Linked DNA regions of Homo sapiens. The protein of the gene in region 2 purifies or fractionates together with the protein of the main gene of each other region. This does not show direct contact. Each region holds a gene or a part of one and is shown on either strand. Other genes may lie near its edges. The genes, in order: FASTKD1, SCN2B, THADA and OPA1.

Evidence for each region.
Region 1: the proteins of SCN2B (region 2) and FASTKD1 purify together in Homo sapiens (affinity purification with mass spectrometry; 4 studies listed by BioGRID and IntAct, with this or other methods). This does not show direct contact.
Region 3: the proteins of SCN2B (region 2) and THADA purify together in Homo sapiens (affinity purification with mass spectrometry; 4 studies listed by BioGRID and IntAct, with this or other methods). This does not show direct contact.
Region 4: the proteins of SCN2B (region 2) and OPA1 purify together in Homo sapiens (affinity purification with mass spectrometry; 4 studies listed by BioGRID and IntAct, with this or other methods). This does not show direct contact.

Annotation. Positions count from the first base shown.
Region 1 is NC_000002.12:169,570,416-169,578,959, reverse strand, and holds the start of FASTKD1 (FAST kinase domain-containing protein 1, mitochondrial), read left to right. Parts: upstream 1-5,094; 5' UTR 5,095-5,291; exon of another isoform or gene 5,292-5,964; intron 5,965-6,788; 5' UTR 6,789-6,930; coding exon 6,931-7,307; intron 7,308-7,791; exon of another isoform or gene 7,792-7,956; intron 7,957-8,544. UniProt on the Homo sapiens protein: Involved in the down-regulation of mitochondrial MT-ND3 mRNA levels which leads to decreased respiratory complex I abundance and activity.
Region 2 is NC_000011.10:118,173,416-118,181,298, forward strand, and holds the start of SCN2B (sodium channel regulatory subunit beta-2 precursor), read right to left. Parts: upstream 3,225-7,883; 5' UTR 3,017-3,224; coding exon 2,947-3,016; intron 1-2,946. UniProt on the Homo sapiens protein: Regulatory subunit of multiple voltage-gated sodium (Nav) channels directly mediating the depolarization of excitable membranes.
Region 3 is NC_000002.12:43,571,760-43,579,677, forward strand, and holds part of THADA (tRNA (32-2'-O)-methyltransferase regulator THADA), read right to left. Parts: intron 6,849-7,918; coding exon 6,754-6,848; intron 5,484-6,753; coding exon 5,263-5,483; intron 3,269-5,262; coding exon 2,577-3,268; intron 1,234-2,576; coding exon 1,055-1,233; intron 104-1,054; coding exon 1-103. UniProt on the Homo sapiens protein: Together with methyltransferase FTSJ1, methylates the 2'-O-ribose of nucleotides at position 32 of the anticodon loop of substrate tRNAs.
Region 4 is NC_000003.12:193,609,290-193,617,207, forward strand, and holds part of OPA1 (dynamin-like GTPase OPA1, mitochondrial), read left to right. Parts: intron 1-5,433; coding exon 5,434-5,752; intron 5,753-6,384; coding exon 6,385-6,481; intron 6,482-7,888; coding exon 7,889-7,918. UniProt on the Homo sapiens protein: Dynamin-related GTPase that is essential for normal mitochondrial morphology by mediating fusion of the mitochondrial inner membranes, regulating cristae morphology and maintaining respiratory chain function.

The DNA.
Region 1 (8,544 bases), on a different chromosome or scaffold from region 2:
TGGTGGGAAAACAAAACTGAATAGAGCAGCTTTTCCTTTGGAGTGGCAAACGTGGGGGGTAGGCAGGTACCTAAAGGGTTTTTCTTTTTGTCTCTTGTTCACATTAAATGTGATTTACCTCCCACCCCCTGAAAGGTGGATGGGGAGGACAATTAAGTATTTACCGCAGCTAAGATTTTAGAAAAAATGAGGATGGGGAGGGTGACATTTTTCAACCATCTGTTAAGTGCCAAGTGCTTTTTGTTAATGACATATTTTTGACTAAGGATCATGTTTGACTGATGTAATTTTTTTTTTTTTTTGAGACAGAGTCTCACTCTGTTGCCCAGGCTGAAGTGCAGTGGTGCAATCTCGGCTCACTGCAACCTCCGCCTCCCAGGTTCAAGCGATTCTTCTGCCTTAGCCTCCTGAGTAGCTGGGACTACAGGTGCGTGTCACCACTCCCGGCTAATTTTTTTTTTTTTTTGTATTTTTCAGTAGAGACAGGGTTTTGCCGTGTTGGCCAGGCTGGTCTAGAACTCCCAACCTCAGGTGATCTGCCTGCTTCAGCCTCCCAAACTGCTGGGATTACAGGTGTGAGCCACGGTTCCTGGCCTGGCTGATGTAAATATTAATGCAAAAATTGGAAGCTAAGATGAAAGTAACACTAATTAGTAGGAGTAGAATTTATTTCATATTAAAATGTATTGTGGTGTAATTTTTTTGTTGTCGTTGTTGAGACAGAGTCTTGCTCTGTCGCCCAGGCTGGAGTGCAATGGTGCCATCTCGGCTCACTGCAACCTCCGCCTCCCGGGTTCAATTGATTCTTCTGCTTCAGCCTCCCAAGTAGCTGGGACTTCAGGCATGCACTACCATGCCCGGCTAATTTTTGTATTTTTTTTAGTAGAGATGGGGTTTCACCATATTGACCAGGCTGGTCTCAAACTCCTGGCCTTGTGATCCATCCACCTCAGCCTCCCAAAGTGCTGGGATTACAGGCGTGAGCCACCACACCCAGCCTGTGTTGTAATTTTTATGGCTTGGCTAAAGCAACAGTTTTCAGAGTGCACCCTCCTTGGTGCTACTCACAGAGATGTGATGTGCTGTTGCTGCTTTCTAACTCTGCCTACTTTGTGACCTCTTAAGAGGATGAAGTTGATAAAGTAAACCAGTGTCAGTGGCTAAGTCTAGAAGACCTAGAAAACATAGGAATAGGTCCTGAACCTATTGCTCTTGCGATTGCACTGCAGACATCAAGAAGCAGGTGGCTATTTCCACACATTGAGATCTATAATTCGCAATCCCGAAGATGATGGAAAAAATACCCCTTGGTGCATTGCAGAGATGCTACAAATCACCAAGCAAGCCATGGGATTGGCTGTACCTTTAATTGAGAAAAAAAACTTGAGAAGAAGAGCAATAAAACTCACGAGGACATCATTGGTATCAGATCTCAAAACCACGGCTCTTTGGTTGAGGGAAACAATTTTTTAATGAGTAAATGTTCATCTCCAAACCAAAAAGTGAAGTAGACCGTATTCCCCAATGTAAATATTGGCAACCTAAGAAAGCTAGGAAATTTTACAAGACTTGAAACGAAAGTTAACTTCTTTTTTTCTTTTTTCTTTTTTTTTTAAGACCCAGCTATCAGAGACTTTCTATGTCTTAGCAGCCTCCTGATAAAGGAAGTCAAATGACCAATCAAGTTTTTAGTGAAGAAATCCAATCAGGCCAGGTGCAGTGGCTCACGCCTGTCATCCAAGTACTTTGAGAGGCCAAGGCTGGGGGATCACTTGAGGTCAGGAGTTTGAGACCAGCTTGACCAACATGGTGAAACACCTTCTCTACTAAAAATACAAAAATTAGCTGGGCATGGTGGTGCATGCCTGTAGTCCCAGCTACTTGGGAGGTTGAGGCAGAAGAATTGCTTGAACCCAGGAGGTGGAGATTGCAGTGTGCTGAGATTGGGCCACTGCCCTCCAGGCTGGGTGACAGACTGAGACTCCATCTCGAAAAAACAAACAAACAACTATTTTAGTTTTGATGGCTTAACCATTCATTCCCTATGTCTTCATGGTTAATTGAAGGTTACTGACAGTAGACAAAAAATGTATTCTCATTTGACTCTAATTTTTCCCATATTCTACTTGAACAAATTTAAAATGTTCTGCTGCCTATACACCCCGACATCTAGGAGTATTAAGACTAGTCAGTCATAAAATAAACCTGATACATCAGATGAATGCCAGCACCTATTCAATTTCGTTTTGCTCTGTTTTCAGAAATGTCAGAATAAATATATATTGGTTACTGGACATTCTAGAAGGAAGTCTTCAAGTTTTAATTTTTTTCCAGTGTGAGCATGCCTCAACATTTTGCATAGACTGTCAGAACTATTGAAAATTTAGGCTGGGCAAGGTGGTTCATGCCTCTAATCCCAAGCACTTTGGGAGGCTGAGGTGGGTGGATTGCTTGGGCCCAGGAGTTCGAGACCACCCTGGGCAACGTGGGGAAACCCTGTCGCTACCAAAACTACAAAAAGTTAGCCAGCTATGGTGGTGTGCACCTGTAGTCCCAGCTACTCGGGAGGTTGAGGCAGGAGAATCGCTTATACCCAAGAGGCGGAGGTTGTAGTGAGCGGAGATTGCACTACTGCACTCCAACCTGGGAGACAGAGTGAGACCCTGTCTCAAAAAAGAAAAGAAAAGAAAATTGTGCTAAAACTGGTTTTATGACAATAACCATGACCACATAAACCAAGAGTCTCCTCTGTAACCCACACAATAAGAAAGTTGCCCCCTCTCCCTCTCCCTCTCCCTCTCCCCACGGTCTCCCTCTCCCTCTCCCTCACGGTCTCCCTCTCCCTCTCTTTCCACGGTCTCCCTCTGATGCCGAGCCGAAGCTGGACTGTGCTGCTGCCATCTCGGCTCACTGCAACCTCCCTGCCTGATTCTCCTGCCTCAGCCTGCCAAGTGCCTGCGCGCTGCCACGCCTGACTGGTTTTCGTATTTTTTTGGTGGAGATGGGGTTTTGCTGTGTTGGCGGGGCTGGTCTCCAGCTCCTAACCGCGAGTGATCCGCCAGCCTTGGCCTCCCGAGGTGCCGGGATTGCAGACGGAGTCTCGTTCACTCAGTGCTCAATGGTGCCCAGGCTGAAGTGCAGTGGCGTGATCTCGGCTCGCTACAACCTCCACCTCCCAGCCGCCTGCCTTGGCCTCCCAAAGTGCCGAGATTGCAGCCTCTGCCCGGCCGCCACCCCGTTTGGGAAGTGAGGAGCGTCTCTGCCTGGCCGCCATCCCATCTAGGAAGTGAGGAGCGTCTCTGCCCAGCCGCCCATCGTCTGAGATGTGGGGAGCGCCTCTGCCCCACCGCCCCGTCTGGGATGTGAGGAGCACCTCTGCCCGGCCGCGACCCCGTCTGGGAAGTGAGGACCGTCTCTGCCCGGCCGCCCCGTCTGAGAAGTGAGGAGACCCTCCGCCCGGCAGCCGCCCCGTCTGAGAAGTGAGGAGCCCCTCCGCCCAGCAGCCGCCCCGTCAGGGAAGTGAGGAGCGTCTCCACCCGGCAGCCACCCTCTCCGGGAGGGAGGTGGGGGTCAGCCCCCGCCAGGCCAGCCGCCCCGCCCGGGAGGGAGGTGGGGGGGTCAGCCCCCCGCCCGGCCAGCCGCCCCGTCCGGGAGGGAGGTGGGGGCGGTCAGCTCCCCGCCCAGCCAGCCGCCCCGCCCGGGAGGGAGGTGGGGGCGGTCAGCCCCCCGCCCGGCCAGCCGACCTGCCCGGGAGGGAGGTGGGGGGGTCAGCCCCCCGCCCGGCCAGCCGCCCCGTCCGGGAGGGAGGTGGGGGGGTCAGCCCCCCGCCCCGCCAGCCGCCCTGTCCGGGAGGTGAGGGGCGCCTCTGCCCGGCCACCCCTACTGGGAAGTGAGGAGCCCCTCTGCCCGGCCACCACCCCGTCTGGGAGGTGTACCCAACAGCTCATTGAGAACGGGCCATGATGACAATGGCGGTTTTATGGAATAGAAAAGGGGGAAAGGTGGGGAAAAGATTGAGAAATCGGAAAGTTGCTGTGTCTGTGTAGAAAGAAGTAGACATGGGAGACTTTTCATTTTGTTCTGTACTAAGAAAAATTCTTATCCTGTTGATCTATGACCTTACCCCCAACCCTGTGCTCTCTGAAACATGTGCTGTGTCCACTCAGGGTTAAATGGATTAAGGGCGGTGCAAGATGTGCTTTGTTAAACAGATGGTTGAAGGCAGCATGCTCCTTAAGAGTCATCACCACTCCCTAATCTCAAGTACTCAGGGACACAAACACTGCAGAAGGCCGCAGGGTCCTCTGCCTAGGAAAACCAGAGACCTTTGTTCACTTGTTTATCTGCTGACCTTCCCTCCACTATTGTCCTACGACCCTGCCAAATCCCCCTCTGCGAGAAACACCCAAGAATGATCAATAAAAAAAATAAATAAATAAAATAAAAAAAAGAAAGTTGCACAGCATATTCCAACAAATATCAGTTTGGTACCTTTAGAGCCTTACTTTGTTGTAGTGATTATCAGCTGAAAATTATGTCTGTTGTAACTTTGGTAAGCATTCCACTTTGGTTATTTATTAGTGGTATTTTTTTTTTAAGTGTCAAGTGTCAAATCTTGGGACTATTAAAATACCATGGTAAGTAAAAAAAAAATATGGTCTGAGAACTGGTACCTATCCACGACATAAGTGCAGAAACTGAGAGTATGAGTTTGCATACTTTCAAAGTTACTCGACAGAGTTATTTCGTATATGCTAAAAAATAATAAGAAAAATCTGTACGTGTCTTTTCCATGTTTACATTTTTAAATTTCATTTTCCTAAGTATATTTTTGTGTATATTATAAAAGTAGTAGACTTCCAAGGACTAGGAGAACAACCTTAGATAGTAGAGAATCACCTAAACGACCTATATCTTCTTCAACAGCTTAAGCTGTGTACTGCGCTAGAGCCTCCCTCAATGAGGAACTACAATGCCCAGAATTCCCCCAAAATGCGTGAGCGACGTCCATTTCACCCACCTCGCCGCGACCCACCCTGGGATATGTAGTGCGTGACTTCCGCAGTGCACGCTGCGCCTGCCGGGCATTTTTTCCTGGTTTGGGGGCAAGGTCTCATGGGAAAGGTCATGTCTCTCGAAGAAAGGTTATAAACCCTGAGATATGAGGGTTGGGCGAGACATCCGAGCCTGTTTCGTTCCGTGTTGGGACCAGGAATAACCCTGACTTCTGAGCTTTCATAACCCCAGGATCCTCCAGAAAATTTGCGGCGCGCTGAGGGAAAACCTTGCTGGCAAGTCGGGACTGTGTGGCAGCGGCTATTTTTCTTTTCCCACCCAGCACGTTTTCGGGCTGGGGACATAGGGTTCAGTTGAGATACGGAGGCTTCCTTCGGGATATTGGGTTCTCTGAAGTGCGGATGGACTAGGGCAGGGCTGAGACCCCATTCATTCACTCATTTGTTTAGCTCTCCTTTATGCCCGGCGCAGAAGATACCCCTTAGGGTCCCAAGGCCCTTCCTGTAGTTAAGTTCCTTCCTTAAGGTCATTCAGCTGGGGCAAAGCTGGGGACTCGACACCTTTCTATGCTAACCATTGAGCTGCCTCCACTTTGAGCAGCTCAGTGGATGAATATAGTATCTTGAGGATACCTTTGATTTGTGCAGGGTTTTCTTGTGCAGGTTTGTGACCCAGGTCAGCTTAGGTCAGGATGCTGTACTGCTTGCCACAAAATAGCCTGTACTGTCGCGTCGTTTTTTCTTGTGAACAGACTGTTTGGCATAGCCGTAGAGAGGGGTCTGAGACATGAATTTAGTGATACAGCGTTGATTTGTTTGTGTAATGAAGCTGTTCAAGTGGAAAGAACTGAGTTGTAGTCCCTGCTTCACTAGTACTAGAAGGATTTTTTAAACCTTTTTGAACCTATTTTGCCTTATCTGTAAAATGGAAATAATATCAACCTGGAAGGTTAGCTGAGAGAATTTAATGAGATAATGTGTTTCAAACGTTCTTTGTAAATGGTAACATGTTGCAGAAATATTAGATTATATGACTTTAGTCCCTGCTTTTCTAACCATTACTTCTCAATTATAAATGTAAACATTTATAGCATATTTTTAAAACAAATTATTCTTTTTTCATAATTATCTTTAGTTCTTTTATTGTTTCAGCATGACTTGAAACATTACTTAATTTCTTAGTATTTCTTGATTGGTGCTTTAATTGTGTCGTTCATTGGTTAAAACCTATCCAAGGCCAGTAATGATTAAATTATATGACTTCTTTTATTTATTTATTTTCTAAAGAAAGGAATTATTTGAGCTCTTTAAGGGCACAAGAAAAAGGGGCAAGAAATTATCCTGAAAGCAAATAAACCTGAGACCATACTTCTGAAAAATTAAAAAAAAAAAGTATATATATATGTATGTATAAATATATATGGCTCTGAATTAATGCCTACACTTTTTAGAAACTTTGAAGGTGATTATTTATTTTAAACAATTTTCCTCTTTTTCGAAAAGACAGCTCTGAGTTTGTGGGCTTTTTTTTTCCTTTTATGGTAAATTTGAAAACTTTATGTAAATGTCAGATTTAAAACACTTTTAAAATGGGGTGCAGAAAGAAGCCCCTTTTTCTGGACATTTATTTTTTGATCAAATTCTGCTATCTGGTTTAGACTAAGAAAAAGTCTTTAGTTAATGCAGAAAAAATGTATTACTTTAATTTGAATTTTGGAATCATTTTGATATTAATGATGTAAGCATAACCATGTTAAACCAATTCTTTTATAGAAGCTGTACATTGGAATGCGTTTACAGTCATTGTAATGGAAGCAAAATACATGAAGGAAAAACTGTTATTTGTATCCCTGCTTATTGCACCTGACGACTAGTTGCAGATGGTTTTGTTTACCTAAGAAAACTTGTGATATAAATGAAAAAAACACCTGTTTTCCTAGAGTCATTGGTTACAAATATGCTTCGTCTAAGAGCTATTTGTCCATTCTCCTGGAGAGTGTTTCAATTTCGACCCATCAGTTGTGAACCACTAATTATTCAGATGAATAAGTGTACAGATGAGGAGCAAATGTTTGGTTTTATTGAAAGAAACAAAGCCATACTTTCAGAAAAGCAAGTGGGATGTGCATTTGATATGCTTTGGAAGCTTCAAAAGCAGAAGACCAGCCTGTTAAAAAATGCTGAGTATGTCAGAGACCATCCTCAATTTCTTACTCTTCATAATTTAGCTACAAATAAATTCAAATTAATGAATGACGATACCCTGGTGAATGTGTTATACGTCACACAACAGTAAGTAATTTACTTTTATATTTTATGGAATGATTATATAGTTTACATTTTAATTTTCTAAAAATCTCTTTATTTTCATTTTATTTATTTATTTTTGAGGAGTCTCTGTCGCCCAGGCTGGAGTGCAGTGGCATGATCTCGGCTCACTGCAAGCTCTGCCTCCCAGGTTCACGCCATTCTCCTGCCTCAGCCTTCCGAGTCAATGGGACTACAGGCGCCTGCCACCACGCCCGGCTAATTTTTTTGTATTTTTAGTAGAGACGGGGTTTCACCATGTTAGCCAGGATGGTCTTGATCTCCTGACCTTGTGATCCGCATGCCTCGGCCTCCCAAAATGCTGGGATTACAGGCGTGAGCCACTGTGCCAGGTCTAAAAATCTCTTCAAAATGAAAAATAATTTTTTTCACCAGTAGTTTTCCTGATAATCTAATTTTTTTGTTTTGTTTTGTTTTGTTTTGAGGCGGAGTCTTGCTCTGTCACCAGGCTGGAGTACAGTGGCACAATCTTGGCTCACTGCAACCTCCGCCTCCCAGGTTCAAGCAATTCTCCTTTAACAACTGTAATACTATTGTTAACTGTGGGCATTTGAAATTGGATTATTGTGGAGTTTTGTGAAAATGTGGTTGGCTGCAGATGAGGATATAGTAGGTAAGCAGTTAGATTTAAGATTAATGCCAGTCGGGTGTGGTGACTCACACTTGTAATCCCAGCACTTTGGGAGGCTGAGGTGGGTGGATCACCTGAGGTCAGGAGTTCAAGACCAGCCTGGCCAACATGGTGAAACCCTGCCTCTACTAAAAATACAAAAATTAGCTGGGCGTGATGGCAGGCACCTGGAATCCCAGCTACTCTGGAGGCTGAGGCAGGAGAATCTCTTGAATTCACGTGGTAGAGGTTGCAGTGAGCACAGATCATGCTACTCTACTCCATTCTGGGCGACAGAGTGAGACGCTGTCTCCAAAAAAAAAAAAAAAAAGTAATGCCTAATAACAATCAGCAATTAGTAAATTTTGTCTGTGATAACTTGTTTGCAATCTCGTTATTGTAATTAAATGGACGGCACATATGTTTTCTAGGGGGTATTGGTACAATAGGTTGTTTCTCAATAATAGCCCTTAAAAGGAAAAAGAAATAAAATGATTTTGTAGATTCATTTATATTTGATAACAATGTTATACAAATTATGTGGATGGTTGATAGGTATTACGTAAAGAAGGGCTTCCTTGGTGTCAGTGG
Region 2 (7,883 bases):
CCCCATTGTCCTTGTCCTCACCCCAGCCCTGTTCCTATCTCTTCCACATGACTTGAGGGCAGAATGGCAGGATAGTTAACCTCCCAGTGCCTCAGTTTCCTCATCTGTAATATAGGGGACAATAAGCCCAACTTCATAGGGCTGTCGAAGGATTAAATGACTTACTACCTGTATGAAGCTCAGCACAGTGCCTAGCACATGGCCTGGACAAAAGTCAGCTGCGACTATGATGAGCATTATTGCTATTATTGTTGCCATACATACAATGTTGTCTTGTTATTATTTGTTCATGGGCCTGTTTCCCTCTAGAGGCTCCGGGGAACTGACTCCTATTCATCTTGGTATCCCTGGCACCCAGGACAGTGTGTGGCAGAGTGGGGACTCAATAAAGTCTACTAAAGGAAGAAGAGACAGCTTTCTCTCCATGTCTGGGTCCCCACCACCACAAGCAGCAGATATGTGCAGTGGGCTAGAGTGAGGACTAGACTTCACTTTCTTTCTTTCTTTCTTTCTTTCTTTTTTTAAGAGACAGGGTTTGGTTCTGCTGCCCACGCTGGAGTGCAGAGGCATGATCACGGCTCACTGCAGCCTGGAACTCTTGATACTCCTTCTTCAGCCTCCTGGAACAGTTAGGACTACAGGTACATGCCACCATGCCTGGCTTATTTTTCTTTTCTTTTTTTTTTTTTTTTTTTTTTTTTTTTTGTAGAGACAGGGTCTTGCTATGTTGTCCAGGCTGGTCTCCAATTCCTGGCCTCAAGCGATCCTCCCACCTCGGCCTCCCAAAGCACTGGGATACAGGCGTGAGCCACCATGCTCAGCCCAGACTCCACTTTCTATGCCTCCACTAACATAATCCATACATTGGTAAGCAGGCCAGTGACTGTGGAGTCAACGGTCTCAAGAAAAACTTGAGGGAAGCCCAGTCATTTGAATTGTTTCTGGCTAAAACTAGCCTCATATGCTTCTGCCGTGGGTAGAGCTGGTTGCCCACCTGCCCTTTCTCTTTGCCACCTCCATAGTCATCCCCACAAGCCCAGCCCCGACAGAGTCCCCTCCCTCGTCACTTGTGGCATCCTCCATCCTGGGGATCGATGCTACTGCAACACCACCAAAGTTCCACTGTCAACTCGGCCCTCAGCATTGGAGTGCCAGGGACATGCCTCATTACAGCACCAATCAAGTTCAAGTTCAAGGTCCCCATTCCTGCATCCTCTCCCACTCAGCTTTGCAGAAGCTTTAGCTTCCTCCCACTACCATCTCCCCACCCCAAACACTCAGACCTCTTCATCGCAGACTCCCTCTTCCTCACCCTAGCCCAGAGCTCTGGGTCCTGGTCACTGAGCCCCCTTTCTATCTTTACTTAGCCATGGCTCTCACCAGGCGGCTTCTCTCCTGCACGAAGTGCTTCCTAACTCCTGAGGAAAGGGTCCTGTCCTCCAGCTGGGCCTCCTTACAACAGGCCACTCACCCAACTCCCCTTCTTTCAGCCTGTCCTGAGACTCTGATCAATTAGGTACTGTTAATATAGCAGTGCCATTTCTTGAACATTGGGGAGTGGAATCCAACGTTTAAGAGAATGTGCTGAAGTCAGACACAGGGAGTTCAAATTTCAGCTCCCGTTACCATAGTCATCTGTTTCCTCCCTGTAACCTGAGTATAATAGAATCTACCTCCGATTGCTGTGAGGGCTAAACAAGATACACAGTGCCTGGGCTCACGAAAAGCATTCTTATGTTAGCCATCGTTGAGTTCCTGCCATGCACCAAATCACAAACACGTCAGGCAGTAGGCATTCTTTAGTTTACCCGGGAGGGAACTGAAGCTCAGAGGGGTTGAGTAACTTGCCTGTGATCATTACGTAAATGACAAAGGTGGCTTGAAACCCAGGTCCTGCCAGAGATTCCATAGCATTCCTGCTCTGATGTTAATATGCCAAGTAACTCAGCAAAGCAGGCTGGCAGGGCCTCTGCACTGTCTGTGTTTAGCACTCCTACTCCAAACCCAGCACATCACACCACAGAAAGAGAGAGAGCCTTTGTGGTGGGGAATAGTTCCATCAACAGTCCTTGGACTTGACTCTCAGTTGCTGCTCCAGCAATAAGTAAGTTTAGGAGCAAGAATGAAACTCTACAAAGCAGGCTTGCAAATAACTTTCTAGCCCACTTCCCCACCAGGAAGTCTCTGAGTGGTCAAATACAAACACTTGACAGGACAGTCTGCAAGACTGGGCTGGGCAGTTCTGAGGCTGGATTTAAAGGGCTGCAACCTCGCTCAGCCTGTGGGTTCCATTTTTTTCCTGAATCTCTACACCTGGCCCTTCCTCCATTCCATCCGGCCCAAGCCAAAGGTGCCTTCTCCATCAGTGCGTGCCTCAGCAGGTCTCCTCCCAACCCAGACATCATTCCCCAAGCCCGCTTCCCACCTACTCCCACACACGTTCCAACAGATCAGTGAGACCGAGTGCCAAGAAGCCAGACCCAGACTCAACTTTCTGCCACCAGCTCCCCTGCACACTCTCCTAATACCCTAAATCCACCAGGATCAAGCTTCTGAAAAGAAGCCCCTTAAGGGAGCATTAAGTCCCAGGACCCCGCATTTGCAGCAACTCCAAAAAATAATCCCTGAAGAGACTGCAGGTCAATCCACTCTCTGCCCCACCGCCACGTAGGTCCACTTAGGGGAAATCCAGAGAAGATTCACCTCCCTTGACAATTGTCAGCCCCCAGCAACACTCAGATCCCCTGACCCAACATTTCTGTGACTAAGTAGTCCCAGGGTTCTGCACTCCCCAGCAACGTCCCTTCCAGTCCCCAGCACCTCCCCTCCCAAGGACACAGAGGGAAAGCGCTAGCAATGTCTTCTTTCCTATCCCCTGCCCCCATCCTCTTCACATTGCGGCTACACTTCTGAACCCTCGGGAGCATGCAGATGTGTCTAACTTACCCAAAGAGAAAAAGAGACTGAGCCCCGTGAGGCTGAAGGCAGGGCGAGGTAGCCAGGCATCTCTGTGCATTTTCAGAGACTGAGATGTTAGTCGGGTGGGCTACGGGAGAGGGTGATTTGAGGGGGCGAGAACTACAAGGGAGGAATGGTTGGATGCTAAAAAAAAATGCACGGATGTACTTCAAAGACATATACAACATTAAGGAAGCTTTATTTCCATCTCTCTAATATGGCCGGCTTGTATGTTGCTGCTAAAAAGAGAGAGAGAGGGAGTGTGTAAAGGAGAGAGAGAGAGATGGGGGGGAGAGAAAAGGGGGATGGGGTAAATATTGTGGTTGGTGGATTTCAAAAAGCAGGTGGGAGGGCATAAAAAAGTCATTTTGAAAAGAACAAAATCCCAGAAATTTTTACCCTCTAAAACAAGAAATAATACAAACCCTGCTTTTTGACTTCACTGGGATGATTGTTGGATTTTGAAAGCTATTAGAGGAATCCATTTATTTTAAAGATTCTGGAAAGGGAAACACCTTTTATCATTTAAAAACACCCCCAGGCTGACGCAGTGGCTCACACCTGTAATTCCAGCACTTTGGGAGGCCGGATGGATTGCTTGAGTCCAGGAGTTCAAGACCAGCCTGGGCAACATGGCAAAACCCATCTCTACTAAAAATACAAAATTTAGCCAGGCATAATGTCGCATGCCTCTTGTCCCAGCTACTGCACCGCACTCCAGCCTGGGCCCTGCCTCCAGAGGGAAAAAAAAAAAAAAAACCTAAAAAAAAAAAGGAGATGCTTGTTTTTGTGTTATTGAAAAGGGTTCAGGAAAGTGAGTTGGAGAGACTTTCAAGGGGTAATGCTTTCCTCATTCTAGCGTTTCCTCTGAAAACAGAACATGTTGAAGCAGGCTGATAGAAAAATACCCAAGAGATCTTACAATTGAATGTAACACAGGCCTTTGGATAAACCTGATTCAAACAAATCAACAGGAAAGAAAAGTTTTTGAGACAATTGGGAAAAGTTAAATATGAACTACATAGTAGATTGTATTAATGAATCATTCTTAATTTTGTTGGGTCTGATAAAATGTGGTTTTGTCCTTTAACATCTCTATCTGTTAAAGACACACATGGGTGGCCGGGCGGGGTGGCTCACACCTGTAATCCCAGCACTTTGGGAGGCCGAGGCAGGCAGATCACCTGAGGTCAGGAGTTCGAGACCAGCCTCCCTAACATGGTGAAACCCTGTCTCTACTAAAAATACAAAAGTTAGCCGGGTGTGGTGGCGTGTGCCTGTAATCCCAGCTACTTGGGGGGACTGAGGCAGGAGAATTGCTTGAACCTGGGAGGCGGAGGTTGCAGTGAGTCGAGATCACTCCGCTACATCCCAGCCTGGGCCACAGAGTGAGACTCCATCTCAAAAATACATATATATATATTCAACGAAAAAAAGAGATGGGAGAATAGGTGACACGAGACTAGTTGTTTTGCTTGATAATTGAAACTAGCTGGTGATGGGTGTAAAGGGTTTGTCATATAGTTCTCTCTTCTTTTGTGTATGTTTAAAACTTTTCTTTTGAAGAAGGAAGAAAAAATAAGCTAACGTCATAAGTAGGAGAACTTGGTGGGTGGAGTCCAAGGTGGTCCTAAGCAGAGGTGACCCCCATACTCCTGGGGAGATGGTTAAGTAGGGCAGAGATTCGCATGCAGCAGTCACCTGCATTTGTGATGGGCCCTTTGTGTACCAAACAGGGAGCAACTAATATTTTTGAGCATAAACTCTGTGCCAAGCACTTTACATGTGATATCTCAATTTTTTATTTTTTTATTTTATTATTTTTTTTTAGACAGGGTCTCGCTCTGTCACCCAGGCTGCAGTGCAGTGGTGCAATCTCAGCTCACTGCAATCTCTGCCTTCTGGGTTCAAGCAATTCCTGTGTCTCAGCCTCAAGAGTAGCTGGAACTACATGCACGTGCCACCACCCCCAGCTAATTTTTTTGTATTTTTAGTAGAGGCAGGGTTTCACCATGTTGGCCAGGCTGGTCTCGAACTCCTGACCTCAAGTGTTCCACCTGCATCAGCCTCCCAAAGTGCTGGGAGTACAAGCGTGAGCCACCATGCTCAGCCTGTGGTATCTCAGTTTAATCTTTTCTTTTTTTGTGTGTGAGATGGAGTCCCGCTCTCTCTCCCAGGCTGGAGTGCAGTGGCGCGATCTTGGCTCACTGCAACCTCCACCTCCCAGGTTCAAGCAATTCTCCTGCCTCAGCCTCCCAAGTAGCTGGGATTACAGATGCCTGCCACCATGCTTGGCTAATTTTTGTATTTTTAGTACAGACAGAGTTTCACCATCTTGTCCATGCTAGTCTTGAACTCCTGACCTCGTGATCCACCGACCTTAGCCTCCCAAAGTGCTGGGATTACAGGTGTGAGCCACCGCGCCCCCACCCTGTCAGTTTAATCTTAACCCTGGGATAGGTGATTTCTTTTTCCTTTTTCTTTTTTTTTAATTTATTTATTTTATTATTATTATTATTATTATTATTTTTTTTTTTTTTTTTTTTTTTTTTTTTTTGCGATGGAATCTCACTCTGTGGCCCAGGCTGAAGTGCAGTGGCATGATCTTGGCTCACTGCAACCTCCGCTTCCCGGGTTCAAGTGATTCTCCTGCCTCAGCCTCCTGAGTAGTTGGGTTTACAGGTTCCCGCCACCATAATTTCTTTTTTCTTTTTCTTTTTCTCTTTATTCTTTTGTTGTTGTTGTTCAGACAGAGGCTTACTCTGTGGCCCAGGCTGGAGTGCAGTGGCACAATCTTGGCTCACTGCAACCTCCACCTCCCAAGTTCACGTGATTCTCCTGCCTCAGCCTCCTAAGTAGCTGGGATTACAGGCTCCTGCCACCACGCCCAGCTAATTTTTGTATTTTTAGTGCAGACAGGGTTTCACTATGTTGGCCAAGCTGGTCTCGAACTCCTGGATTCAAGTGATCTTCCCGCGTTGGCCTCCCAAAGTGCTGGGATTATAGGCATGAGTCGCTGCACCTGGCCTTTATTCTTTTTTTTTTTTTTTTTTTTTTTTTTTTTTTTTTTTAAGACGGAGTCTCACTCAGCTGCTTAGGCTGAGGTGCAGTGGTGTGATCTCGGCTCACTGCAACCAGCGTCTCCCAGGTTCAAGCAATTTTCCCTTCTCAGCCTCTTAAGTAGCTGGGATTACAGGCACCCATCATCATGCCTGGCTAAGTTTTGTATTTTTAGTAGAGACGGGGTTTCACCATGTTGTCCAGGCTGGTCTCGAACTCCTGACCTCAGGTGCTCTGCCCACCTTGGCCTCCGAAGGTGCTAGGATTACAGGCATATGCCACTGCGCCCGGCCTATTCTTTTTCTAGTGGCAAATGAGGAAACAGAGGTTCATGGGGCTCAACCCACCCAAGTTTACATATGAGAGTTTAAGGGCAGAGTCAGGATTCAAACCAAGGTCTTCGTGAAACTCTGGGTGTCTCCAGCATTCCACATTGCTTAGCACCAAGGGAAGGATAAATGGAGCTACCTCCAGGTTGTCTAGAAAGGCACAGGGAAGAGAAGACCAACAAGACACATGAAGCAATTAGCCCCTGCAGGTGACATAAAAGCAAGGGCTAAGAGGCAGGCTATGGAGAAACAGTGAGAATCCAGCACAGTGCCTGGCTCAGGGCAGAAACTTCGTCAGCAGACGGTGAATGACTGTACAGGGGCACACCTGAGTGAATTAATGAATCTGGAGAGCTAAGGGAGGAAAGTAGACACTGCGGAGGAAATGAAATCCTTCCAAGGCCTCTCAAGCTGTTCTGGGCTGGGGAGGAGCAAGGGGGCCAGGGATTTGAGGCAGAGTTGCCAGAAGGCAGAAGGGTGGGTAGTCTAAGAGCCCTTTGTGGTTGTCCCTGCCCAGATCACACACAGATTCTGTCCCCAAGTGCCTCTGTCCCATCCCTAGGGTCTGGCTCTGGCTGGCCCATTCACAAAACACAGGGCCCACAGGGCAGAATTGCAGGGAAGGAGAGGTGGGGCAGCCTGGAAGAAAAGTCTCCTTCAGTGGCCATGCCTGGCCCCATCCCCAGTGCCCTCCGGCCCTGAGGTCTACCCCGCTGTCAGCAGCTCACAGCTGTGCCCGGAGGGGTGGACTGGCACAAGCCGGGCCTCAGCTCCCGCTTAGGCGTGCACTGCCAAGTCCCACTCTGCAGCACAGCCATCCATGCTGCCGCAGACACATGTCAGCTCTGCCCCGTTGCCAGAGATTTTTGGTTTGACGTAGCCGGCCTCCTCTTTTTTTCTTAATGCAGCAGAGGGTGCCCGTGAGGCCCAGAAACTGAAGGAAGCTGCTTGCCTGTCTCACTTGGTCTCACATTAGGTCCAGAAGCTCCTATTTTGGGGGCATCTGAGGCAAGAAGTGGATCCAGAAGATCTGTTTCTATCCAGAATTCAGCAAAGAGAAACTACGTATCCAGACTTAGAACAGTCTTCATCCAACTCAGCCCCCCAGGACCAAGGGTCAGGAGGAGCTAGATCAAGGGTGAGGGGCAGTAGCAGGCAGAGCCAAGGCAAGAGAGGGGGAGAGCTACCCCGGAACTTCCCCACAACCCACTTGGGCCTCCAGACACCCATCTGCTCCGAAAGAGTAAGCCTTCCCCAGGAGCCAGTGAAAGTCTGGGAAGCAGCAGCTCTAAGAGGTGTTTTGCCGAATGAAGACACCAGTGTCAAAGATGTGCTTTTTTAGGAGTGAAGCCCTGTGGTTTTGGCATTTGTGCCCAGGGTTATTTATCAGTGAAGGTTTTATTAGACAGCTCTCAATTACCTACCCTGCTGGGAGAAGCAGTGTTACAGATAATTCAAAGGAAGGTAGTTTCCTTTTACCTTTGGAATGCCTCGTTGAGGCTATAGAGAGCCTCCCTAGTTATTTACCTTACAGCC
Region 3 (7,918 bases), on a different chromosome or scaffold from region 2:
GATTGTATGTAATAAAGAACTGAATCCACTGCATTTCTTCCATGGAAACAATTTCTGTGCTCCGATTACTTTCACAAAGCAAGCCTAATGTATCTATCCTTACCTAAAAAACATCAAGCAATAAAATGTTAATTTTCCAAGAAATAAGCAAAGCCTAAATCACTTGAATTGCTTACTTACATAGGCTACAAAAGGAAAAAAGTAAACTTCAGTTCACCAATAGGTACCTCAGAAAGGTTTCCTAATCTCAAAGATCCTAGGGTTATTTCCTATACAATTCTTTTATTAAACATGTAAATTGGGGATTTATAAAATGCAACAATCTTAAAGATTTTTATTCCGTGGTAATGCTCAGCTTCATTCCTTTTTCTTTTTTTCCAGTGACCCCTTTTACCCCATCACCTCACTCTTAAATTACTGCCAGACACTTCTAACTGGTTTCCTGGTTTCTTTCTGCTCCCACTCTGGAAACTCACGTTTCCACTAATGTAACTCCTTGCTGAAAACAGAGTAGCTTTGGTTTAGCTTAGTAAAACCAGCTGGTGCCTGGGAACCAACTAAGTCTTTAGCCTAGCATTAGGCCTTTCCAAAAAATGTCCAAAACACTCCACCCCTGATAAGCAATGTTCTTAATCATCCTCCAGACCTTGCTCATTTGGGTCCCTCCATTTTGTATGCTGCTCCAAGGCTTCCTCTTTTCTAATCATATCTATCACTTTCCTAATCAAGCACCACCTGCTCTGATCAGTCTCTTCTGAGCCTTCCAAGCGAGTCCTTATGTATTTAAGGGCACATGATGGCATGCTTGTATCTGTATTGTCAGTTCTAAGAGTTTCCAGTTGTTTTATGTAAGTTTTCTTACATCCTCAACTAAACTTTCAGTAGCTTGAAGAAAGGGCCTACTGAAAGTTTAGTTGGGAGACTAGGGTTTCTACTCATTCTCTTTATGAACTCCCTAAAACAGTTCAGGATACAATGTAGGGGCCTCTATATTGAACTGCTACATGAAAGGGATCTACTGCATGTACAAATCCAGGTAATTTTCTTTACTTACTTGGCAATGCTGATGAATTAAGCCTTGCTTTATTCTTGCATCAGACACGAGGTTCTCCCAGGTATCAGTTGCAGACTGAAGATGTCCATGAGCTCTAGCTATTCGCAGACATGCCATCAAAGCTCCCAGAGCCCCCCTGCTATTACAAGACCCTAAGGATGGGAAAGATTGCTCTTGTCCTGAAAGCACAATAACAAAGACCATTACTGTATTATGCAATGACTACTATAATTATCAGCTGCTAATTTTCATGTTTCCAATTAACATTTTATTTCAATAAATAAAAATCACATTTTAAACTCATTTCTAACACAAATTAAAGTTCCTATTCTAAAATAATCATTATTTAATATGATTTGCCCTTTTGTCAATCATTTCAAGTAAGCATAATTCTCTTATCGTTAACATAAACAAATCATTATTTACCTGCTAACATTTTTGCTTTTTCCCTAACACCTAGAAAGGGAATCAGGCAGCAAATCAGGAAATAAAATCAGGTGGAGAAATAAGCACATCAGTGGCTACAGACTATTACTTCTCTAAAAGTAAACACTGAACCTCTCTGCATATTTTAGAGTGGCTGTTTCTCACTAGTAAAGATTAAAAAAGGAACACAAAGAGCCTGCTGGTTTCAGAGGCTAGGACGTCAGCCATTACCAAGAAGACAGGGCAGCTTGATATAAAAATAAAGACAACCTTACTTCAGAACAGATTCTTGAATCCTGAATTTCAGATGGCTTTTCAAAAACTCAAGAACAAGTGTTGTCAAAAATTACAAATAATGGCTTATTTTTGCATACAGGAATCAAATTTTCCTGCTACCTCATGGTTACTCTTTGAAGTACTGAACGTTTTTAACAATTTTAGTTGAAAATATTTCTTAAAATTATGCTGTACGATACTACATTCTTGCTTTGTTAAACAGAATGTAATAATTTTAAGATTTATATGATGTGTCATGATCATCACTTTACACATCCTGAATTATGCTTGAATGCAGTGATTCCTGTAGGGTTTGTGAGTTTCAATGGGATGTTTACCCCTATTCTAAATAACTATAGATGGCTATTTCTTGAGATCATGCCTCTGAATTTTGTCACTTCCCCAGAGAAAAAAACTTGCTACTGCCAAGTTACCTGTCTTTAACCTTGCCTAACACAATTTTTAATTATTGTCTCAATGACTTGAATAAGCACATTATATAAGACACACAAACTTTTATTTCAGTGATACAATAAAATAAATTCAGAACTTGAAAAAATGAATTAAAACCTTGTAATACAGGAAAGTTTATCATTTTAAGTGGAATTATTCTTTAGCTTGTAGAAATGACTTCAGCCAAAAAACTCCATTCAGCTATATATAGGAACATTCGTTTCAAACTGAAACATCTATCATTAATCTCTTCCTTTACTATTTATAGAAGTGATATTTAAATTTGAATATGATTAGTATCTGCATAGCTACCTACATTTAAGCATCATAATTAGAAACTACTAAAACAAAAATGCATTTTTCTTACCAGTTTTAGCATCAATAGAAGTCTGAAGAATCTTTACCATGTACTGTAAGCTTTCAGGGCTGTAACTTAATAATTTTGGCAAGTAATAATCAATCACGTAAGATTTTTGATCCAAGTTTCCTTCACACAATATAAAAAGGAGAGGAGAAACCCAAGTCTCATGCCACTGGTCAATCCAAGAACTCTCAGCAGTCTGGGATTTCAAATGACTCTTATGATTTCTAAACATGGTTTCCAAGAGGTCACTTGCATAAGGTACCAATGACTGGTCTCCCATCACCTCTAAGATTTGAGATGGAATAGTTTTATCTATAGCCAAAATATGTTCAACTCCTATGCACTCTACCAAACAACCAAGGCACGTGTACTTTCCTTTAATATGCCATTCCAATCGTAAAAGACTCTCAGTCAATTCCACAAAGAAAGGATCAGGGACGAAATCTGCACCTTCCACAGTGAGCCGGTGCATTTGGAGAAGGTTTTTGAACATGATTTTGGTTTGGTGTCTCAGAGCATCCAATGGATGTTCCCAATGGGTATAGACATATTCCAAAAGTCTCCCAACTATACTTGAATTCCCATTCAGGCTGTCCGTTAGGCTCGGGGAACTTGATTCAAGGACTTGTATGGCTGAATTAGTCCAGGATGCTAAGATTCTAGACAGAAACATTTCCAGCGTTGGCTCTTTAATCCTGAAGAAAAATGAGCCATGAGCCATTATTGTAAACTGATTAGTAAAAGAAATTTCATTTTATAACAATTTAGACTTTAAAAATATTAAATACACAGAATGACCACAAATTTCAATTATTAAATTTACAAGAACAAAAAACTACAAGTAAAGCCAAAACAGATCTCAAATTTGTATATGATTCTTTTTACCTTGTAAAAAATAATCCAGAAAGCAGTTCAAGATCAGCCTAGGCAATATAGTGAAACCCCATCTCTATAAAAAATTTAAAAATTTAGCTGGGTGTGGTGACACACACCTACAGTCCCAGCTACTTGGGAAGCTGAGGTGGGAGGATTGCTTGAGCTCAGGAGTGAGACTGCAATGAGCTGTGCTCATGCCACTACACTCCAGCCTGGGTGACAAAGCGAGACTTTGTCTCAAAAATAATAATAGTCCAGGAAGGGACATAGGGAAATTTGGGGGATGATGGAAATATTCACTACCTTGACTGTGATGATTACACAAGTTATTTATTTATTTATTTATTTGAGACAGGGTCTTGCTGTCACCCAGGCTGGAGTGCAGTGGTGCGATCTCGGCTCACTGCAACCCCTGCCTCCCAGGTTCAAGCGATTCTCCTGCCTCAGCCGCCTCAGTAGCTGGGATTACAGGCGCATGCCCCCATGCCTAGATAATTTTTTGTATTTTTAGTAGAGACAGGGTTTCACCATGTTGACCAGGCTGGTCTTGAACTCCTGACCTCAAGTGATCCACCTGCCTGAGATCTGCAAGCCTGGGATTACAGGCTTGAGCCACCATGCCCGGCCTACACATGTAATTTAAAAGATAAGGAAAGCCAAGTGTTGGAGATGGTTGGGGGAATGGGGCTTCTCTGTGATAAAAATATTCTAAAGTTGTTTGAATTAACTTTTAAGATGTTAAAACTTCATTTCAGAAATGTTGATAAGGATCACTTTAGATTACCTATGTTAAAGTGCTTCATAAATTCTAAAGCACTACACATGTAGAAACTTTTATAGTTTTAAAAAATGATGCTAAAAACAAATTTCAGGAAAAAAATTTTTAAAGAAAAAATATAGCAAAGAGAATATTAAAAATTAATTTTAGAAATGCTGGTGGTTGTACAACTCTGTGAATAAACTAATAAACTGAATTGTACACTTCAAATTTATGAATTGCATAATATAGCTCAAATATGTAAAAAATTATTTTAGTTTTCCTCCTTTATTCATATGTTCAGTATTATCAAGCTGTATATATGTTTCGACATTTCATATACATGATCACTTTCAGCCATTATGGCAAAAACACCACAAAAATACAAAATACAGCCCCATGAAGTCAGAAGACCTTCTAAGATTGCTGTTTCAGGTTCTTATTAGCAATATGGTCTCAGGTAAGCATTTACTTTTCTAAGCCTCCCTTTGCCCATTCAACAAATTAGATTTCTTATCCTATATAGTAGCCATTTGAGGATCACATTAGATTACCTATGTTGAAGTTCTTTATAAATTCTAAAACACTATACATATAAAAATTTTTATAGTTTTTAAAAACGATAACATTGAAAATGTTAAAAATTAATTTTAGAAATGTTCTTTACAGGCTAACCTGCAGCAATAATTTTATTTATTTATTTTTTTAAGACAGGATCTCACTCTGTCGCCCAGGCTTGAGTGCAGTGGCACAATCATATCTCACTGCATCCTCGGCCTCCTGGGCTCAAGCAATGTTCTCACCTCAGCCTCCCACGTAGCTGAGACTACAGGCGCATGCCACCACACCCAGCTAAGTTTTAAAAGTTTTGTACAGACACAGTCTCACTATGTCACCAAGGCTGGTTTTGAACTCCTGGCCTCAAGTGATCCTCTTGCCTCAGCCTACTGGGAGGGTAGCTGGGATTAGAGGCACAAGCCACTCCAGCTTTTGGACTGCATCTTCTAAATGTCTTACAAGTGAAACAAAATATGAGACGATAGCATCAAAACTCACTGTGAACTCAAGGTGAACAAAACATGTGCAGTATCCAAGAGCAGGGCCTCCCCACTCCGACCCATGCTTCCGTTCTGCCAGTCCAACATGGCAAGTGTCCCCTGACAGAGGAATAAGACAGCTGACTGAGAGATGTCACCACAACAGAGGCTCCTGCAGCTGCTCATAAACCACTCGGGGACACTGGTGCAGTCCACTGAACGAAGCAGCACACTGCTAATCTGGAAAAATATAGCAGAGCTAACACACATAAAGCTTTTAAAACTTTTCAGAGATATTTCAAAATACAAACCCAAACATCTCTTTCCCCTGAAAAATCCTAGGAAAAATGACTAAATCCAAAGATAAAATACCCACAAATGTCATGATTATTGTATTAGTATTAAAGGAAAAAAATTACATCAAGTACGAGAATGATTTTGCTGGTTGGAATGTACTGGCAGAGCACAACACATCGCCACCTGCAGGTGGATAAGCTTAACAACTGCTTTTTTTTTTTGGTATGTATTTTTTTTTTAAACAAATGCTTTTAGAGGTGATTTGAGAAATAAACATCTTCGACTTATCCAAAGATAATTACTTTGTGTGATCTCATAATATATTTTTCTAAGGTCAGGTAAAAAGATAAAATAAGTTTCCATACAATATAGCAAGCAAAAAAAGAAATCTACTAGTAAAAAATACAAGGATTGTGGCCTAAATTATCAAATTATACTTTCTGTAAGAAGCAAATTTACTGAACAATTGACTCTATCTAGCATGCTTCCTGTCTAAAGCACATGATTTGGGTTATTCTCAATAAAGAATACATTTATCAGAAAAGTTATTACTGTGTATATATCTATACATTGATATGCATAATTTTAACATTAAAAATATCTTTTAAGATACTAATGAGAGATGACACTGAACAAACAGCACTAAAAAGAAACTAAAAGAATGTACATCAAAAATGTTTATAGTGATTATCTTTGTGAGATGGACTTACAGGTGACTGTTATTGTCTTTTTGTTATTGTTGCTTTATCTGAATTTTTGGAATTGTCTCTTATTATAACAGAAAAAGGTCATCAGAAGGAACCAGACAATGCAAAAAAAAATTATTTTAATTCACTTCTTTAAAAATATTTTTAATTTTTTTTTTTTTTAAGAGACAAGGTCTCACTCTGTTGCCCAGACTGGTGCAATCTTATCTCACTGCAGCCTTAAACTCCTAGGCTCAAGCGATCCTCCTACCTCAACCTCTCAAAGAGCTGGGACTACAGCTGTGCACCACCATACCCAGCAAATTTTCTTTTTTTTTTTTTGTAGAGACAAGGTCTAGCTAAACTCCCCAGGCTAATCTCAAACTCCTGGCCTCAAGTGACCCTCCTGCCCTGGCCTCCCAAAGTGTTGGGATTATAAGTGTGAGCCACTGCACCAAGCCAAAATTATTTTTTAAACATACCCTAACTCTCAATAAAGTACAATTCTAAAAAGGAGATGCACTTACCAAATGAGGAATCTTTTCAGACGGGTGAAACATAGTCTTAATAAAAAGAATAATAGCTAATCCAGATGTGCTCTGTACAGTCTGTAACAGATCATCTATTTGGCAAAAAAGGAGAGAAGCTTGTGTTAAATAATGAATATTCTGGTAGAGTGGAAAGAGCAGATGCTGAGCAGCCAGATAGGCCTGGGTACAATTTCTAGTCTGACCACTTCCTGGGTGAATAGGTCTTACCTAAGTTATTTAACATCCCACAGACTCTCTTTTCTCTTGGGTAAAATGGGATAACTCTTAACTGAGGCAGTGTCAGGTTTAGATGAATAATGAACATAAACGCTTTTTAGAAGGAGTCTCACTCTGTTGACAGGCTGGAGTGTAGTAGCGTGACCTCAGCTCACTGCAACCTCTACTTCCTGGGTTCAGGCGATTCTCCTGCCTCAGCCTCCCAAGTAGCTGGGACTACAGGCGCGTGCCACCACACCCAGCTAATTTTTGTATCTTTAGTAGAGATGGGGTTTCACCACGTTGGCCATGATGGTCTCGATCTCTTGACCTTGTGATCCGCCTGCCTCGGCCTCCCAAAGTGTTGGGATTACAGGCATGAGCCACTGTGCCCGGCTGAATATAAAGGCTTTTAAGCCCAGCATATAGATACTCAATAAACGTGATTCCTTCCTCTCTCCTCTAACATACACTTTCTTCCTCGCCAACTATTGCTTCCCAAAACACCTAACAGCAACACCACCTGTCCCCTCCCCTCCACCAATGCCTCTGTATCCCAATCACCATATACACAGACTTTTTCAAAAAGAGATTTCAGGGCTTGTATAAAGAATGTAGGTAAGTGCTAATTACAAACTTTGCTAGCACTGACACTGTACCCATAGCAACCAAACAGTTTTGACTTGGTATCTTCTTTTTGTTTTATCTCTATTAGCCTCTAATACCATGGTGAGTTGTTCAACCTGGGGAAAGAAGTAACACTTCTTTATGACATCATAAACTACGTACTAAATATCCACTCTGCCCTTCATCACTGATAAGAAAACTGTGACTTTGATTGGGGAAGCCACATGCCCAGCCAAAAGCAGGATACTTGCTTCTTCAATCTTCTTTGCAACTAAAGGTAGGCATATAAGAGGGTTCAGGCCAGTTGGATTTAAGCCAG
Region 4 (7,918 bases), on a different chromosome or scaffold from region 2:
CTTATGAAGCTTAGTTTGGCTGGATATGAAATTCTGGGTTGAAAATTCTTTTCTTTAAGAATGTTGAATATTGGCCTCCACTCTCTTCTGGCGTGTAGAGTTTCTGCCGAGAGATCAGCTGTTGGTCTGATGGGCTTCCCTTTGTGGGTAACCTGACCTTTCTCTCTAGCTGCCATTAACATTTTTTCCTTCATTTCAACTTTGGTGAATCTGACAATTATGTGTCTTGGAGTTGCTCTTTTCGAGGAGTATCTTTGTGGCATTCTCTGTGTTTCCTGAATTTGAATGTTGGCCTGCCTTGCTAGATTGGGGAAGTTCTCCTGGATAATATCCTGCAGAGTGTTTTCCAACTTGGTTCCATTCTTCCCGTCACTTTCAGGTACACCAATCAGACGTAGATTTGGTCTTTTCACATAGTCCCATATTTCTTGGAGGCTTTGTTCGTTTCTTTTTATTCTTTTTTCTCTAAACTTCTCTTCCCGCTTCATTTCATTGATTTGATCTTCCATCACTGATACCCTTTCTTCCAGTTGATCGAATCGGCTACTGAGGCTTGTGCATCCGTCACGTAGTTCTCGTGCCTTGGTTTTCAGCTCCATCAGGTCCTTTAAGGACTTCTCTGCATTAGTTATTCTAGTTAGCCGTTCGTCGAATTTTTTTCAAGGTTTTTAACTTCTTTGCCATGGGTTCGAACTTCCTCCTTTAGCTTGGATAGTTTGATTGTCTGAAGTCTTCTTCTCTCAGCTCGTCAAAGTCATTCTCTGTCCAGCTTTGTTCCGTTGCTGGTGAGGAGCTGCATTCCTTTGGAGGAGGAGAGGTGCTCTGATTTTTAGAATTTTCAGTATTTTTGCTCTGTTTCTTCCCCATCTTTGTGGTTTTGTCTACCTTTGGTCTTTGATGATGGTGATGTACAGATGGGTTTTTGGTGTGGATGTCCTTTCTGTTTGTTAGTTTTCCTTCTAACAGTCAGGACCCTCAGCTGCAGGTCTATTGGAGTTTGCTGGAGGTCCACTCCAGACCATGTTTGCCTGGGTATCAGCAGCGGAGGCTGCAGAACAACGAATATTGGTGAACAGCAGATGTTGCTGCCTGATCGTTCCTCTGGAAGTTTTGTCTCAGAGGGGTACCCGGCCATGTGAGGTGTCAGTCTGCCCCTACTGGGGGGTGCCTCCCAGTTAGGCTATTCGGGGGTCAGGGACCCACTTGAGGAGGCAGTCTGTCTGTTCTCAGATCTCAAGCTGTGTGCTGGGAGAACCACTGCTCTCTTCCAAGCTGTCAGACAGGGACATTTAAGTCTGCAGAGGTTTCTGCTGCCTTTTGTTCGGCTATGCCCTGCCTGCAGAGGTGGAGTCTACAGAGGAAGGCAGGCCTCCTTGAGCTGCAGTGGGCTCCACCCAGTTCGAGCTTCCCAGCTGCTTTTTTTACCTGCTCAAGCCTCCGCAATGGCGGGCACCCCTCCCCCAGCCTCGCTGCCACCTTGCAGTTTGATCTCAGACTGCTGTGCTAGCAATGAGCGAGGCTCCATGGGCATAGGACCCGCTGAGCCAGGCGCGGGATATAGTCTCCTGGTGTGCTGTTTGCTAAGACCATCGGAAAAGCGCAGTATTAGGGTGGGAGTGACCCAATTTTCCAGGTGCTGTCTGTCACCCCTTTCCTTGGCTAGGAAAGGGAATTCCCTGACCCCTTGTGCTTCCTGGGTGAGGCGATGCCTCGCCCTGCTTTGGCTCATGCTCGGTGCGCTGCACCCACTGTCCTGCACCCACTGTCTGACAATCCCCAGTGAGATGAACCCAGTACCTCAGTTGGAAATGCAGAAATCACCCGTTTTCTGCGTCGCTCAAGCTGGGAGCTGTAGACTGGAGCTGTTCCTATTTGGCCATCTTGGAACCGCCCGATTGTGATTTAAAATGAGAACGAGATGGTCCCTTTGGTTCCTGGTCCCTGTAACTGTTGCAATTGAAGGGGCATAAGCTTATTAGCCTTTTGAGGTTTTTTTTGCTCTAGAGTCTTCTCAAAATGCTTAGCTAGGTTGGGCACGATGGCTCACGCCTGTAATCCCAGCACTTTGGAAGGCCAAGGTGGGAGGATCACGAGGTCAGGAGATCAAGACCATCCTGGCTAAGATGGTGAAATCCCATCTCTACTAAAAATACACAGATTAGCTGGGCATGGTGGCACACGCCTGTAGTCGCAGCTACTCGGGAGGCTGAGGCAAGAGAATTGCTTGAACCTGGGAGGCAGAGGTTGCAGTGAGCCGAGATTGCGCCACTACACTCTAGCCTGGGTGACAGAGCAAGACTCCACCTCAAAAAAAAAAAAAAAAAAAAAAAAAGTTCAGCTAAGGCCACCAATTCAGTCACATCTCTAACTTCCCATTGCAACTTATGTTTTTTAGTTAAACTGCTAAGTTCAGGATGGAGTCCATTTATAAGTAAAGCAGTTAATGCTGTTTCAGCCCCTGCAGGGAATACTCCTTGCTGTACTTTGAGCCCAGGATGTTTCACAAATATTTCTAAGCGACTTCTGTAATCTGAAACTGGTTCATCTTTTCTTTTCTTTTTTTTTTGCTTACAAGATTGTATGATGGACCAATTTTTTGTGGAAAAATTTTAGGAACTGAATGTTAAAAGGTTTTCAGCGATTTTTCTAGCTATTTTTGGTCCTTCTTGTGAGGAGCTCTTAGAGGGCCCTTTAAAATGTCCTCCTCAGGTTTGTCCCATTCTGCTGCTGCCATCCATTTCTGAGCTTCACCAGCCCCCAGTATCATATGAATAAATTGGTAAATTCATGAAGTCCTGGATCGTAAGCTCCTATTAGGATTCTAAATTCCTCAGTAAATTTTTGAGACTTTTCCCTTGGACCAGGGAAGTCCTTCACAATGGGGCTAAGCTCAGTTTTAGACCATGGAGTGAAAGTAGTTACAGCAGGCAGGCCTGGCTGATATAAGGTCTCACTTTGTAAGACATCTGTCTAACTTCCTTTTTTTTTTTTTTTTTTTTTTAAATCATCTTCAGGGTGAAAGTGTAATTTAACAAAAAGTTTAGTGGACTCAGAGTATGTAGGTAGAGATGGACAAAGAAGGAACAGTCCGAGTTAGATCAGTCAAAGTACAGTCCTCTTTCTTCATGTCCTTGGTCTGTTGCTTAAGCTTTTCATTTGGTTTTTGCAAAGAATCTTTTAAGGAGGCACTTTTTGATTCACTTAGTCTTTTGGAGGCCTTTGCGTATCCATGAGACAATACATCCCACTGTATTTGTGGGGGCTTTGATCCCCTTTTTCTAATATGCCTTGCAAACAATTTTATCCAAATTAAAACTTCTCCATTGTGGCCATTTTAATTCTAAGTTTTCTTTAGTGAGGTTAACCCATTTTACTGAAAATGCACATGTTCTGGGCCCATAATTTTTATACGTAAAATTAGCTGGAGTCCCTGAAGATGGAGTCCCAGACTCCTTGGATTGAGATGATCCCATTATTAAATAAGGTACTTATCAGAGGTCTGAGGCCTCTAACTGAATCCAATCCAGTTAATTATCAAATCCAATTTGATCTTGGATCCAGTCCAGGCTAAGTATTGCTTGAGTAAACTCGGAGAGCTCAAAACACAAGTTAGTGGAGCTCGGAATCTGAGAGAAAACTCACCCATGACCTCCAGTTACAATCAAGAGACCAGTGAGAGCAACGGCCTCAGTGGGTACCTCACCAGGTCACCTGGTGTTCCAGGGGGTTGCCAGAGTTTTTCTTCAAATCCCACTTCTGACACCAGATCTGTTAAAAGAAAACTTCAGACAAGTTAAATTTGATGGAGTTTAATTAAGCAAGGAAAATAAACACTTTGCAAATCAGGCAGCCTCCAGAATTGAATGCAGTTTGAACACTTAGCAGTCTATTAGTGCTTGAAGTATGGCCACTGGGATTGGCCAACACTCAGCTATTATTACAGATGCATACTACTCAGGTTTTCCATTTTGTCTGCCTATTGTGCTAGGTTATGGTTTGTCCACAAGAACACAAATATAGAAGTATGGAGTCCTTCTCAGGCCATATTTAGTTTGCTTTAACAATACTTAAAAAAAAAATTTGTAAAATAAGGATACTTAACCTTACTCGGTGTTTCTGAGAGTTAACATTTATATAGTTATGCTGTAGTGAAAACAGCTAGCGTAATGTCTGGTATGTATAGGAACACAAGAGATACCGCTTTTCCCATATCCCCATACCATTCTTCACAGCATTGCTCCTGTCTTCCTTGATTCCTCCTCCTCCTTCTTTGTTTTTTTTTTGTTTGTTTGTTTGTTTTTTTTTGGAGGTGGAGTCTCACTCTGTTGCCCAGGCTGGAGTGCAGTGGTGTGATCTCAGCTTACTGCAACCTCTGCCTCCTGGGTTCAAGTGATTCTCCTGCCTCAGCCTCCTGAATAGCTGGGATTACAGGCACACACCAACACACTCAGCTAATTTTTGTATTTTTAGTAGGGATGGGGTTTCACCATGTTGGCCAGGCTGGTCTTGAACTCCTGACCTCAGGTGATTCACCCACCTCAGCCTCCCAAAGTGCTGGGATTACAGGTGTGAGCCACCACACCCTGCCTCCTTCTTAAGAAGTTTCCAGTCCCTTGTAATTAAAGGAATTAATATTTTTTAACTACTTAGAATCAGACTGGCCCTGATTATTAGTAAGCAACTAATAGTAAGCAAGCAACTATGTATGCAACTATGAGTGTATGTTAAGATATGGTTGTTGGTAACCTTTCATTCTCTTCAGGAAGAAGAAGAGGGTGGAGCTCTACAGTCAATGTGTACATTTAAATTCTGTTCCCTTTCGAGCTTTTTTGCTACTTTCATTCTTCTGGGGATCCAGGTGCTTGAGTTGGGATTGATTAACTTCCTTAATTTCCACCCCTGTGCTGTCAGGATCGGGAGACATAGATGAAGGTGTTCTAAACTGCTAGAAATTTTGTTTTTGAAAGCAAAAGTTTGCATGCATTTTTGTTTTCAACTTTTACTTACAGTGAATAGTAGTTAATAAAATAAGTCCCTGCCTTTTCTCTCTTTGGTTTCAATTCCTGAGACCAGGATCATAGCCCACATATTAGAGTGGAGTCCCACTGCTTTGGTTTGAATCATGCCTTTGTTTCTTATGTCAGTGTGACTTTGGGCAAGTTATTTAAGTCTTTGCACCACATTTTCCTCATCTGTAAAATGAGGATAATACTAGTACTTTCTACATGGGATTGTTAGCAGGATTAAATGAGATAGCACATACTGTAACCATGTCTGGCACATAGTCAATGGTTAGTAAATGTGAACTATTGTGTGACATTGTGGTTAGTCACGTATGGGGCTGTGTTTCCTTTAGTATATTGCTCTTTTAATGTCATTTCCTTTGTACTGTTACCCTCTCTGATCTTTCTTCCATATTCATTTTTCTTTCAGTGAGGTCTGCCAGTCTTTAGTGAAACACAGCTCTGGAATAAAAGGAAGTTTACCACTACAAAAACTACATCTGGTTTCACGAAGCATTTATCATTCACATCATCCTACCTTAAAGCTTCAACGACCCCAATTAAGGACATCCTTTCAGCAGTTCTCTTCTCTGACAAACCTTCCTTTACGTAAACTGAAATTCTCTCCAATTAAATATGGCTACCAGCCTCGCAGGAATTTTTGGCCAGCAAGATTAGCTACGAGACTCTTAAAACTTCGCTATCTCATACTAGGATCGGCTGTTGGGGGTGGCTACACAGCCAAAAAGGTGAACTTGACATTCCTCCTGGTTTTCCAATTATTATATCATGATTAAGTTTCTATAGCATAAATCATTTTTGTGTAGTGGAATACAATTGGATGTTTAAACATTTATTTTGTGTCTCTACCATGGACTAGATTGTTTTAATGATGCTAATAGGAAGATGCCTTTAGAATCTTAGTTATAATTACAGGAAATTAAAATGGCCTAGTGGAAGGAGCACAGGGCTGGGAATAGGAACACCTAGGTTTGATTTTGAGCTTAGACATTTAGTAGCACAGATGTGAAAGTCAGGTGGCATTCTCACACAAGCACTTCTTGGCAGGTCTGGGACCAGAGGCAAGGCGTCCTGTCTCCCAGTCTGTCTTCCTTCTACCCCACAGTAATATTTAGGGCAAAATTATGAAACCTGTTTGAAATAGGAGTATATTCTGAATTTTTACATTTTCCATATTTAACAGAGGAGTGTTAACTTGTTTTATATGCTTGTTTGCTGAGACCACTTAATTTTGTTTCTTAAAAGTTTTGAACATAATACATTATTCTTAGTAGATTAATGTGTTTTAATTAAATAATTTTTCTTTACATGTTTATTTGGCATGCAGAGCATCTGATTGACACACTTTCTTGTCTTTTAGACTTTTGATCAGTGGAAAGATATGATACCGGACCTTAGTGAATATAAATGGATTGTGCCTGACATTGTGTGGGAAATTGATGAGTATATCGATTTTGGTTTGTATCATGAACATTAAAATACTTTTTTTGGTCATCTCGAGGAAAGAGAAATAGTTTATTGAGATAGTTTCTTAACTTATGAACCTAATATATCACGGTTTTATTTTAATGATATAAGTAATAGAATATCAATGAAAAAATCTGTATAAAAGAAATACCCAGTAGCCCATAATTTTACCACAGCTGCCACTAACTGTTTGGAGCATTTTCTTTTAATTATACTTACTATATGTGGTTAGTATCTTTTTAACTTATCGATTGAGACAGGATCTTGCTCTGTCACTCAGGCTGAAGTGCGGTCTTGGAATCATAACTCACTGCAGCCCTGAACTGGCTAAAGTAGTCCTTCCGACTCTGCCTCCCAAGTAGCCGGGACTACATGTGTGTGCCACCATGCCCGACTGATTTTTTAATTTCTTGTAGAGATGAAGTCTCACTATGTTGCCCAGGCTAGTCTCAAATTCCTTAGCTCAAACCTCTCACCTCAGCCTCTCAAAGCACTGAGATTACAAGTGTGAGCCACTATGCCTGGCTTGAGTTTTTTTCTTTTAATTTTTTTCTTTTCATGAATACTACCACAGAATAGTATTTTAGTTCCCTTTTTAAAAATTATGTAATCATGGTGAATATTCACTTTGGTATTTTGTCTTTTGCTACCTAACATATTTTGTCAGCATTTCCATGCTGCCAAGTAGCCTTTCTATTAATAATATCATTTTCTGCATTATGTAATGTTGCCCAGAGCATATTTATTGTGACCCACCTAGCTAGCTCCTTTTGATTGGATACCTTGGTTATCTCTACCTTTTGTAGCCAAGTTCTTTAAAAGTCTGTTAGTATCCAGGGTAATTTCTTTTCTTAGTTGGCCACTGCCCTCCCTTTTTCAATAGGTGGATGAGAAAAAAGTATATTGGATCGCTATGATTGCCAGTAATTCATGGTGATCTTTAAGAAATATATTTTCATCAAATTTTTTTAAAACCTTTGTCAGATTTCTTAGTTTAGGTGTATGTGGAGGTGGAATTAATCTATACTTGCACTTATTCACAGAATTTATAAAGATAAAACTGTTCTATGTTGACGAATCCATTTGCAAAAAAAGCACACTTTCAAATTGTTCTTCTAATATTAATGAGGAGAGCTTTCAAATTGATGTATTTGCCAGTACCACAGCGTAGTGGCTGAGAGCCTGTATTCTGGAGCTGGACTGCCTGGGCTGGAACCCGGGCTCCTCCACTTCCTTGCTGTGTACCTTAGTTTCTCATCTGTAAATGGTGTTGATAATAGTAGCTGTTTTGTAGGGTTGTCATGAGGATTAAACAAGTTAATACTTTAGCCCTTTATAAGAATAGTATCTGACATATTTTCTTAGTTTCATACTCTATATGTTTTGATCTTTTCCAGAGAAAATTAGAAAAGCCCTTCCTAGTTCAG